3 linked regions of the Homo sapiens genome follow. The protein of the gene in region 1 purifies or fractionates together with the protein of each later gene. This does not show direct contact. Each region holds a gene or a part of one and is shown in the gene's direction. Other genes may lie near its edges.

What was found.
Region 2: the proteins of ASTE1 (region 1) and EPS8L2 purify together in Homo sapiens (affinity purification with mass spectrometry; 2 studies listed by BioGRID and IntAct, with this or other methods). This does not show direct contact.
Region 3: the proteins of ASTE1 (region 1) and USP47 purify together in Homo sapiens (affinity purification with mass spectrometry; 2 studies listed by BioGRID and IntAct, with this or other methods). This does not show direct contact.

What each region holds. Positions count from the first base shown.
Region 1 is NC_000003.12:131,020,216-131,023,965, reverse strand, and holds part of ASTE1 (single-strand DNA endonuclease ASTE1), read left to right. Parts: intron 1-3,750. UniProt on the Homo sapiens protein: Structure-specific DNA endonuclease that specifically cleaves single-stranded DNA and 3' overhang DNA.
Region 2 is NC_000011.10:709,231-712,980, forward strand, and holds part of EPS8L2 (epidermal growth factor receptor kinase substrate 8-like protein 2), read left to right. Parts: intron 1-99; 5' UTR 100-177; coding exon 178-221; intron 222-322; coding exon 323-378; intron 379-1,191; coding exon 1,192-1,256; intron 1,257-3,750. UniProt on the Homo sapiens protein: Stimulates guanine exchange activity of SOS1. May play a role in membrane ruffling and remodeling of the actin cytoskeleton. In the cochlea, is required for stereocilia maintenance in adult hair cells.
Region 3 is NC_000011.10:11,949,867-11,953,616, forward strand, and holds part of USP47 (ubiquitin carboxyl-terminal hydrolase 47), read left to right. Parts: intron 1-22; coding exon 23-138; intron 139-497; coding exon 498-616; intron 617-2,874; coding exon 2,875-3,005; intron 3,006-3,750. UniProt on the Homo sapiens protein: Ubiquitin-specific protease that specifically deubiquitinates monoubiquitinated DNA polymerase beta (POLB), stabilizing POLB thereby playing a role in base-excision repair (BER). Acts as a regulator of cell growth and genome integrity.

The sequences.
Region 1 (3,750 bases):
TTTACAGGATACAAAGTGCTGTCTTCTATATTAGTTCACTTACTATAACAAACTGATGAGGTTGAGTGCTATCTTGCCCTCATGTCGTAGCTAAGAAATCTAGAACTTGAGTGAACTAGGTAATGTCTTAGCCAGAAAGTGTCAGTGCTAGGACTCAAACCTAGCTCTTTTAGCTCTAAATCTACCATTTCCACTGTACTTCAGTAGTCTGTGTTATCGTCACAGTTATTACTACTATATTGTTATTACTACCAGGTTAATACTAGCTATCAATAGAATGGGTTACGTGGCTGAAAAAAAAAGGAAAAAAATTCACAACTGCAAAAAAAGTGTATAGACACTAATCATAGGCACAACATCTCAGACTACATCGGATTTCAGATAAGGTTAGTACTGATGCTAAGGTCTAATTTTTTAACTTTTATTAATGAATACCTTTTTTAAAATAGGTTTTTGTGTCATTATGGTTATTTGCCTAGTTTGATACAGAAAACATGACTCTTAGTCTAACTTAGTGTTGCTTAAACCTGAGTAACACCCAGACCACCTTTTCAAGGAGAAAAAAATTCTCATGGATCCCAGTGTTGTCTTTTTATATTACATATATATTTAAAATTACAAATAGATATGAAACTATGCTGATAAAAGAACTAGATTTAGACATTAAATAGAGATAACTTAAAAAAAAAACAATTGCAATGCCCATTAGGGGATCTTCTTAGATCCAATGAAATATTCAGTCTCACAAAACTCACAGACCACACGTGGCACCAGTCTACTTAAGGATGTAGGACGGCAACCACAGCTTCCCAGTGGATTTAAGTCAGGTCTTCCTTTTCTGTCAGAGTTCTCCCAGCACTGTTATCAGTCTACACCAAAGCTTTATCACCATTGGTGATTTTGTCCCCCAGAGGACATCTGGCAATGCCTGGAGACATTTTTGTTGTCCCTACCTAGGGAGTAGAAGGGGTAGTGGTTGCTATCGGTATCTAGTGGGGAGAGGCCAAAGATGCTGCTAAATTTTACAACCTGTAAGTCTTACAGTGCACAGGAAAGTGTCCCATAACAAAGAATCTCTAGCCCAAAATATCAGTAGTGCCATTCCCTGGGCTATACAGCTGACCAGGAACTAGCCTCTTAGCCTCCTCTTCAGTCACATCTCAGACAGGAGGAGATGAATGTCATAGTGAATGAGTGCAAGAGCCTTCTTGGCATTGGGCAGTGAGTCCAAGAGCCTTCTTGGCATTGGCGAGTGACTGTTAAACCCCCAGGGTTTCTTTGGTTGGGGGTGAAGAAAATGTTTTGGAATTAGTGATGGCTGCACAAGTTTATAAATATACTAAACCAAGGCAAGATGGCTCATGCCTGTAAGCCCAGCACTTTGGAAGGCCAAAGTGGGAGGATCACTTGAGGCCAGTAGTTCAAGACCAGCCTGGGCAACACAACAAGACTGTCTCTACTAAAAAAAAAAAAAAAAATTTTTTGCCAGGCATGGTGGTACAGCTACTCAAGAGGCTGAGGTTGGAGGATTGCTCGAGCCCAGGAGGTCAAGCCTGTAGTGAGCTATGATTGTGCTCCCTGTTGAGCAAAACCCTGTCTCTAAAAATATATATACACTAAACCCACTGAATTGTATGCTTTAAAAGGATGACTTTTATGACATATGAATTATACCTCAGTTAGATAAAGGAGAAGAAAAGGTTTCAGTAGCTTAAAAGCCCCGTTCCCTATAGGATCCAGTCTTTCTTATAATAATTCCATAAACATAGCTAGGTCCCTGCAAGGGACATCCTACTTACAAGACACTGCACTCAGGGAAGCCCCAAGATATGGTGTCCCCATCAGGTGTTTATAGTTCATTTATATATAGTTTAAGCTTAGATGCAATTTTATAAGTCATTTTTATAATGCTTGGTAACACAACTGACAATCTACCTTTAGCACATTTCCAGGGGTACAAAACTAGAAAGTGGAGCGTAAGTCAGTCTCAAACAAGGGATTTATTAAAACTTTACCCACACCAATAAAATTCAAACTAGCTACATTATTAATGTTTTGCTGAAATTACATTTCTACTCAAGCATAAATGGTGCTGTTGGGGAGTTTTTTAAAAAAAATGTAATGGCTTTACTGAGAAATAAGTAGTGTACAGTAAAGTGCACATAAAGTGTGTACTTTGATGAGTTTTGAGATGTCTACATCTGTGAAGTCATCCTACAATTAAAATAATCAATGTATCCATAACCCCTAAAGTTTCATCTTGTTCCTTTGCAATTCATGCTTCCTTGAGTATAAACACAGTAAAGTGCCCAAATAATCGTACAGCATGATAAATTTTTGCAAGGTCTATACATCCATGCAAAGAAGATCCAGATGAATCATTATCGCCACCCTAGAAGCTTCTCCTAGTGTCTGGTTCCAGTCACTCGCTCTGCAACTCTCTATAATCACTCTCCTGTTTAACAACACAATAGTTTTAACTGAATTATTACTTTAGAAATGAATTCTTTCATCTGGCTTTTATTCCACATGAGATTCATTCACATTGCTGTGAGTAGTTGATCATTCATTTCTCATTGCTGTAACATTTTTCTATTTTGGTATATTACCATTATACACTTAAGAACATTTTTTTTCATTACACAGCTTATGAGCATTTGGGTTCTTTCCAATCTTCCATTTCCATGTGTTCATTAGCCATGTGATACTCTATTATATGAAGTTTCTGTACAGTTTTTTGCTCATTTTTATCATATACGGGTCCTTTGTCAAATAACATATTGTGAATAGTCTCTCCCATTGTTTATTCACTCTTTAGTATGTTTTGATGAACAGAAGTTCTTAATATACTCTAATTTAAATTTTTATTATTTATGGTTACCACTTTTGTGAACTGCTTAGGAAACTGCCTACTCCACGGTCATGAAAATGTTTTTTTGCTGTTCACATTTAGATCTATAATGTATCTAGAATTGGTTTTTTGTGGGTGCGTATGGTGTGAAATAGGGATCAGGATACCTTTTCCCCCCACATGGAAATCCAACTGAATCCATGAGTATAGCAGGCTGCTTATATTCCTTGCTAAGTAGAGATGACTTAAGTGTTCTCATCATTTACCTGGATTCAAAATAGAGTGAAATTTTAGTTCATTCTCTGCGCTCTGCTATCACCCAGCTTTCTCTTGGCATAAACTTATCAATTCTGAATTTAGCTCAGTGCTAATGGTTCTAATTAGCCCCTGAAAATTATAAATGTACCAGGTGCTCATGTGATTCCAAACACAAATGCAAGTACAAGTATAGAAACCTTGTGATAGTACCTATTCATTTTGTTTTTTAGATCTTGTAATACATTATCTGCTTTGGCCAGCTGTTGTTAATAAAAACTTTATAGTCTCTCATTTAATTCCCACAATAACCACATGGGATAGGGTTTCATTTTGGTTATGTTAGTTGCAATGGACAGAGCACCATTCAAGTTAACCAATGGGAGGTTAATCATAAGGAGACACAAAAGTGGATCATTCTTAAGGAGTAAGGCAGCCAAGACCAGTCTCTCTCTGGGCATCTCTGCCTCTCGGGGCAGCTGCTTCTGCAGGCTTGTGCTTTCGCTCCCCCTGGGGAAGAGGGAAAGTAGTTGTCACATGGGATAAAACCTAACTAACGTTAAGGGCTGTGAGTTGAGTACTTCCCCTTTTGGAAGGGACTGTGGACTGGTGGGTTTGATGAAACATCTTATACAAGTCATTAT
Region 2 (3,750 bases), on another chromosome or scaffold:
CCCACCCAGGCCAGGCCAGTCAGGGATCTGGCCCAGGGAAGGAGGGGAGGAACCAGCCAGGCCGGAGGAAGTGTCAGCGCAGCCCTTCTGTCCACCCAGGTGTGGGACAGGCACTGGCCTCAGACCGGGGCCACACTGAGGTCTGCCCTTCTCCCGCTGGCCGCCACCCAAGACACCATGAGCCAGTCCGGGGCCGTGAGCTGCTGCCCGGGTGCCACCAAGTGAGCCCTCCCACCCATCCCGAATACCCCACCCTCACCCTCTGAACAGTCCCCAGGGAGGGGTGCAGTTTGGCCCTGCCCTGACAGCCCCTCCCCTGCAGTGGCAGCCTGGGCCGGTCCGACGGTGTGGCCAAGATGAGCCCCAAGGACCTGTTTGGTGAGTGAGGTTTGAGAACGGGCTGGACGTCACAGGGGAGAAATGGGCACTGCATCCAGGTGGGGGACAGCTGCTCCTGCCCCACAGCTGTGCCTGGTCTGGCCCAGGGGATCTCCGGGTGCCCAGGGAGGCCTCTGGACCCTAATCAACCTTCCGAAAGCTCCTGGCCACTGGATCCCCTCCCCCACACCCGTAAGGGGAGAGGCCTTTACTAATAATTCAGGGAGCATCAATATTGATTCCGCTGCACTCATTGCTGTAACCTGATCACAGCGAGGTTCAGGCAGGATAAGCCGCCAGGTGTCTGCTCCAGGAGGGGGGCCTGGCCAGCCCCCACCTCCCCCCACTCTGCCCTTCCCCAGAGACGACCCTGCCCTCTCGCTAGCTAGATGCACCCTTCACTTATGTCTTTGGACAAGGTGCCTAGTCTGGAAAGCGAGAAGACCTGGGAGGGCAGGGAGAGTGAAGCTGGCAGCTCTCAGAGTGGGAAGAAGCCGGGCTGGGACCCCCTTCCTGTCCCCTCACCCTCCGGGACAGAAACCCCCCGGGCACAGGCTGCTGGTCCCCACTCCACTCAGAGCAAGCCCATCGCCTTCTCCGAGCTGCGTCCTTCTCCAAGGGGGCTTCCCTGGAGGGAGGGAGGGGGCTTCCTGCAGGTCCTGATTTCACACCCACATCCTTCCTGGTGGCCAAGAGGTCCACGGAGCAGCCTCCCTCCGCTTGACTCCACCTTCCCTTGTGGGTCCAGTCCCAACTGGACGGGAGGCTGTGGGTCCTGCCCGTCGGGGGAGTGACTGGTGTCTCCCGGTTCAGAGCAGAGGAAGAAGTATTCCAACTCCAACGTCATCATGCACGAGACCTCGCAGTACCACGTCCAGGTAAGGCCCCGCCCCCAGGTAGGCTCCGCCCCCAGGGAGCACCCTCAGGACATGGCTGTCCTCAGGTTCTCGTCTCCACAAAAAATAAAATAATTAGACGGGCATGGTGGTGCCGGCCTGTAGGCCCTGCTACTGGGGAGGCTGAGGCGAGGGGGTCACTTGAGCCCGGGAGGCGGAGGCTGTAGTGAGCCAAGATCGCACCACTGCACTCCAGCCTGGGCACCTGGGTGACAGAGCTAGACCCTGTCTCAAAACGAAAGAGAGAAAGAGAGAAAGAGAGAAAGGGAGGAAGGGAGGAAGGGAGGAAAGCTCCAGGGAGAGTGGTCAGCCCAGCTTCTGACACCCACGGGGCCGGGGGAGGCCAGAGCCAGAACTGCCCACACTGTCCCGGGCTCAGCCACGGGGCCGGGGAAAGCGCCCCTCTGGTTCCAGTCCTGGGAACTCGCGGCCTGGGGGGTGAGGCAGCCCAGGGTGTGCCGGGAAAACACTGTGGCTGCTGCCCAGCCCTGGATGGGAAGAGCCCCTGGAGGAGATGATCATCCTGGCCCCAAAACGAGGAACTGTATCGGGAGGGAGCAGGCAGAACAAAGACGCCCTTGATGGGGGATTCAGGGAGGCCCGGGCTGCTTCTCAGGGCTCAGACGGGGCTGCCTGCACGCGCCGGACCAGCCGCCAGCCCTGAGGGCTTTTCTGTTCTCCTAGGTCAGTTTCATTGACACGGAGAACTCAGGAAATGTTTTTTTGGGGGGTTTTGTGTGCGTGTGTGCGTGTGTGCGTGCGTGCGTGTGTGTGTGTGTGTGTGTGTCTTTTTTTCTTCCTTTCTTTCTCTCTCTCTCTGTCTCTCTCTTTTCTTTTCTTTCTTTCATTTTGAGACAGGGTCTAGCTCTGTCACCCAGGTGCCCAGGCTGGAGTGCAGTGGTGCGATCTTGGCTCACTACAGCCTCCGCCTCCTGGACTCAAGTGATCCCCTCACCTCAGCCTCCCCAGTAGCTGGGCCTACAGGCTGGCCCCACCATGCCCATCTAATTATTTTATTTTTTTGTGGAGATGGAAGTCTCCCTATGTTGCCCAGGCTGGTCTCAAACTCCTAGGCTCAAGCAATCCTCCCCCCTCCTAGCCAGGCCTGGTAGTGTGAGCTCGTAGTCCAGCTACTTGGGAGGCTCAGGCAGGAGGATCCCACCACGGCCCTCCAGCAGCCTGGGCAACAGAGTCTTAGGCCAGGCGCGGTGGCTCACGCCTGTAATCCCAGCACTTTGGGAGGCTGAGGTGAGTGGATCATCTGAGGTTAGGAGTTTGAGACCAGCCTGACCAACATGGCAAAACCTCATGTCTACTGAAAATACAAAATTAGCCAGGCGTCGTGGTGCATACCTATAATCCCAGCTACTCGGGAGGCTGAGGCAGGAGAATCACTGGAACCCAGGAGGCGGAGGTTGCAGTGAGCCGAGATCACACCACTGCACTCCAGCATGGGCAACAGAGCGAGACTCCATCTCAAAAAAGAGAAAAAAAAAAGGGACCAGGCGCGGTTGTTCATACCTGTAATCCCAGCACTTTGGGAGGCCGAGGCGGGTGGATCACCTGACGTCAGGAGTTCGAGACCAGCCTGACCAACATGGTGAAACCCCATCTCTACTAAAACTACAAAACTTAGCTGGACGTGGTGGTGGGAGCCTGTAGTCCCAGCTACTTGGGAAGCTGAGACAGGAGAATCACTAGAACCCGGGAAATGGAGGTTGCAGTGAGCCGGGATTGCGCCACTGCACTCCAGCCTGGGGGACAGGGCGAGACTCCATCTCAAAAGGAAAAAAAAAAAGGCCCCTGCGCCTGGGTACGAGCTGGGCTCCCGGTTGTGGTCCAAGCCTGGGTGCGAGCTGGGCTCCCGGTTGTGGTCCAAGCCTGGGTGCGAGCTGGGCTCCCGGTTGTCGTCCAAGCCTGGGTGCGAGCTGGGCTCCCGGTTGTCGTCCAAGCCTGGGTGCGAGCTGGGCTCCCGGTTGTCGTCCAAGCCTGGGTGCGAGCTGGGCTTCCGGTTGTGGTCCAAGCCTACAGGACTAGGAAAAGGAGGGAGGGTGAGGGAGCCTGGAGCTGGGTCCTCCTGCAGGACCAGTCCTTTCTGCCACAAACAGCCCTGGCTGGGGGCCCAAAATGCCCCCTGGTTCCCCCTTGCTGTCCTCCACACCTGCAGAGGTGAGACAGGTCACTACTCTTTGAGCCTCAGTTTCCTCGTCTGTACAATGGGTCCAAAGAGCCATCAGGAGTCCCTGAGCTCTTGAATCGGGCTGTTTTGGGTGACCAGGGCCCTCCCAGCAGCCTGGGCAGCTAGACCCTGCATACAGCCAGGCTGGTGACTTCGGCCAGCTCAGTGTCCAGGGGAAGGCACAGAGCAGTGGCCGAGTTCACTTTAGTCCCCTCTTCCTGGGCAGCTCCACCACCTTTCTCAGGGACTCTGCCCTCTTCGGGAGGAGCCTGGGGCCTCTCAGCCTGGCTCCTGGAC
Region 3 (3,750 bases), on another chromosome or scaffold:
TTGTTTATGTTTATATTTCTAGCCATGCAAGTTTCTGCTAGATGCTGTGTTTGCTAAAGGAATGACTGTACGGCAATCAAAAGAGGAATTAATTCCTCAGCTCAGGGAGCAATGTGGTTTAGAGCTCAGTATTGACAGGTAAAGTAAAATTAATGTCATCAGCGATTTGAAGAAAGACTATGTGGTCAGTTGAAATGGACTGGTATGATTTTCTAAAACTAGGAGAATTAAAATTTCCTGTGCTATTCAGAATTTTAGTATGACAGATTAGTTTAATAGGACTAAACAAGAGTATTAAAATTTTGTTTGGATTTCCTATACAGAATTCTAAATTTGAATTACTGGAAACATTTCTTTATTTCCCCAGATTTTAACAACTCATTATTTGACTTTTGTATTTGAACATAGTTCATTTTTCTTTGGTGTCAGATTAGTGTCAATCTTTAAATTGAGAGTTTCAAATTATAGTCGTTTTAAATGTCTTATCACATTTGTAGGTTTCGTCTAAGGAAAAAAACATGGAAGAATCCTGGCACTGTCTTTTTGGATTATCATATTTATGAAGAAGATATTAATATTTCCAGCAACTGGGAGGTTTTCCTTGAAGTTCTTGATGGTATTTTCAATATTTTTGGGGGGAAGTATCAGTTAGAAATACTCTAGAACTAATAGAAGCCTATAGTTTTTAATCAAATAATGAGTTACGAGGAATCTAATATACATTATAGTGTTTTGTGTTATATTAAGCATAACGATATCCTTATTATGGATTGATGTGATTCCTACCTACGTCTTATCCTTGGGAGTTTTATTTTCTTCCCCTGTGTCCTAATGTAACTGCTTAAGTTGTTTTTGAAAGAATAATCAGTGTCTTTCAGCCTTCTGCTATCTTTCTCTGGTTCCCATTTGCCTTTTAAGTATTCTTTTTTTGAATGTTGAGAATATTAATTCCCCCTTATGAGGAAATTACAAAGTTAGGTTTTTAATACATTTTAAGAAAACTCTGCTAATATTTTCTTAGCCACGTTTGTTCTTTAGTTTCTTTTTTACTATTATGGCTTATTTTGTATTGAAGACATGGTACTGATAATTTATCAGAGACTCAAGAACAATGACTATTTGTGTCCTAAGCCAGGTGGCTTAAAGAATAGAAGTGTATTGTCTCACAATCTGAGATCAGGCTGTCAACAGGGTTGGTTCCTTCTGAGTGCTGTGGGGGAGAATCTGTTCCATACTCTCTCCTAGCTTCTGTGGTTTTTGGCCATCATTGGCAACCTTGGCTTGTAGATACATCACCCCAGTCTCTGCCTTCATCTTCATGTGGTGTTCTTTCTGTGGGCTTGTCTGTCTGTATTGTTTTCCCCTTTTTCATAAACCACTAGTCCTATTGTATTAGGGCCCACCCTGAAGACCTTATTTTACTTTGAGTATCACTGGAAAGACCCTATTTCCAAATAAGGTCACATTCTGAGGTACTAGGGATTAGGATTTCAAAATGTCTTTTTGTGGGGGGCACAATTCAACCCATAGCAGTGACCTTGAGGAGGTCCAAGTAGCAGACATACTTGTCACACCTCCCAGTTTTCGTTATCAACATTGGCACATTTAAAGTATTGGTGTTTGGAGGGAGGCTTATAGGAGGAAAGTTGGCTTTTAGAAGATCACATCAAGGTAAACAACTAGTTCTATATTCTTTTTTTGCTGTTGCTTAGGAAAATTTTAATTTTCCTTTTCTTCTGTAGAAAGTAAAATATGAATTCTGGATATTTTGTTACAAGATTATCCTAGTTTTTAGAGAGCTCAATAATACTAACACCTCATGTATTTCAGGCTGCTTCAGGTCTAATTCAACCATAAATTTAAATGGTTGAAATTCTGATTAATTGACAAGTTAAGTTGGGAGGTAAGGAACAACTAGGATACCATCTACTATGGTGTGTAGGCAAGTGCTCCAGATTGTGATTTCTTTGAGTATCTGGGGTCGTAGGGAATAATCACTGTGCCTGGGTAAGTCAGGAAGAGATCATAAATGACAAAGAAGTCACCCTTGTAAGGATTGAGTATGTATTAGCAGAGATGGATTCATCTGAAAATGGTACTAGATGGTGGGTGCCTGCATCAGTATTATTTCAGTATATTTTCACATCAAGATAGTTGAGTAAGAAATGTCATGTGATTAAATCCAAGAGGTATTTATTGACCTGTAATTTGCCAGACACTGCTAATCCCTTGTGCTACAAAAATGAGTAAGAACCACTTATTGGTGCACACAGTCTGTGGAAGAAACAGAACTGCAAACCTGTCATTCTAAAATAATAGGTACTAAGGGACTGAATCAGTAGAAGTTCTTCTTGTGTACACCAGAGAAAAGTGACAATTGAGTTGATGCTTGAAAAGTGACAATTGAGTTGATGCTTGAAAAGTGACATAATGGAAAAGTGACAATTTTGAAGAATCACTAAATTGGGGAGTAAATGGAAAGAGAAGGATTAATAATAGCTTTAGTGAAAAAAGAGGATAAAGTGAAGTTGATTTGTTTATGATTTTAGATAGGGATAGGAGCCAATAGAGAAACAAAGATTGGAAATCCAGAGAAGAGAGTAATTGGTAATGCAGTGTTCAACAGGAGTCAGGAGGGAGTGGAATTAGGAGTACTGGTTTGAAGAAGAGAGGAATTATCTTCTGAGACTGGAGAGAAGAGAGTAAATATTTCATTCTCAAAAACTCCTTGGGATAATTGGGTTTTTTCTTGTGCCCACTTTTTAAGAGTAACACTTGAAGTAAATCTTTTTGTTTAGTAAGGCACTAAGGGAAAAGTCAAATTATGAACCTTCAGAGGAAATAGAATGATGACCTAATCTTGCATATTCTTAGGGGTAGAGAAGATGAAGTCCATGTCACAGCTTGCAGTTTTGTCAAGACGGTGGAAGCCTTCAGAGATGAAGTTGGATCCCTTCCAGGAGGTTGTATTGGAAAGCAGTAGTGTGGACGAATTGCGAGAGAAGGTAAGTTCATTTTAAACAAAACATGTATCTTATGTTGTATATGTATATCATAATATTAATAAAATATATAATATATAAACAATACATTCTTCCTGTGTTGCGTAAGAGAAAACCTAGGAAGTAGTACCAAACACTGGTGCAGCAACCTTTCTTTTTGGTTTCTGTCACACCTTGTGGCACACTCTGGTTGTTCAGGCTCCTGATTCTTTGAAAAATTACTTTGGCTCCTGGCCATTCAGAAGTGGATCCTCACTTTCTGTTACTTGGACCAATTTTGTCCTAAGTAGTTAGAATTAGTTAGAAGTTACTAGAGTGAATTGCTTTATGTCTAAAAAAAACCAAATGAAGTCGAATTGTGTAGAGAATCCAGATGAAGGTCTGTTTTGCATTTTAAGATGGGATATCTAAGGATCTCTGGGGAAAGGGTGAATTAGTCAATCTGTGGTACTAGCACAATGAGCATTTTGAAAAAGATTTATTTCCATACTTCATACTAAACACAAAAATAAATTCTAAATGTATTAAGTTTATATATAAAAAAAGTAAATGTACTAGGTGAAAATATGTAAAATATTAAATACTAAAAATATTTTCATATTCCTGGAAAAAGATATTTGTAAGCATAATACCAGAAGCCAAAAAAAGAAACTATAGACCACGTAAAAACCTATCCTCTGCATAGCCAAAGAAAAAGGTATTTAAAAAGCAACTCATAAACAAAGCTAAAAGACAATAAACTAGGAGG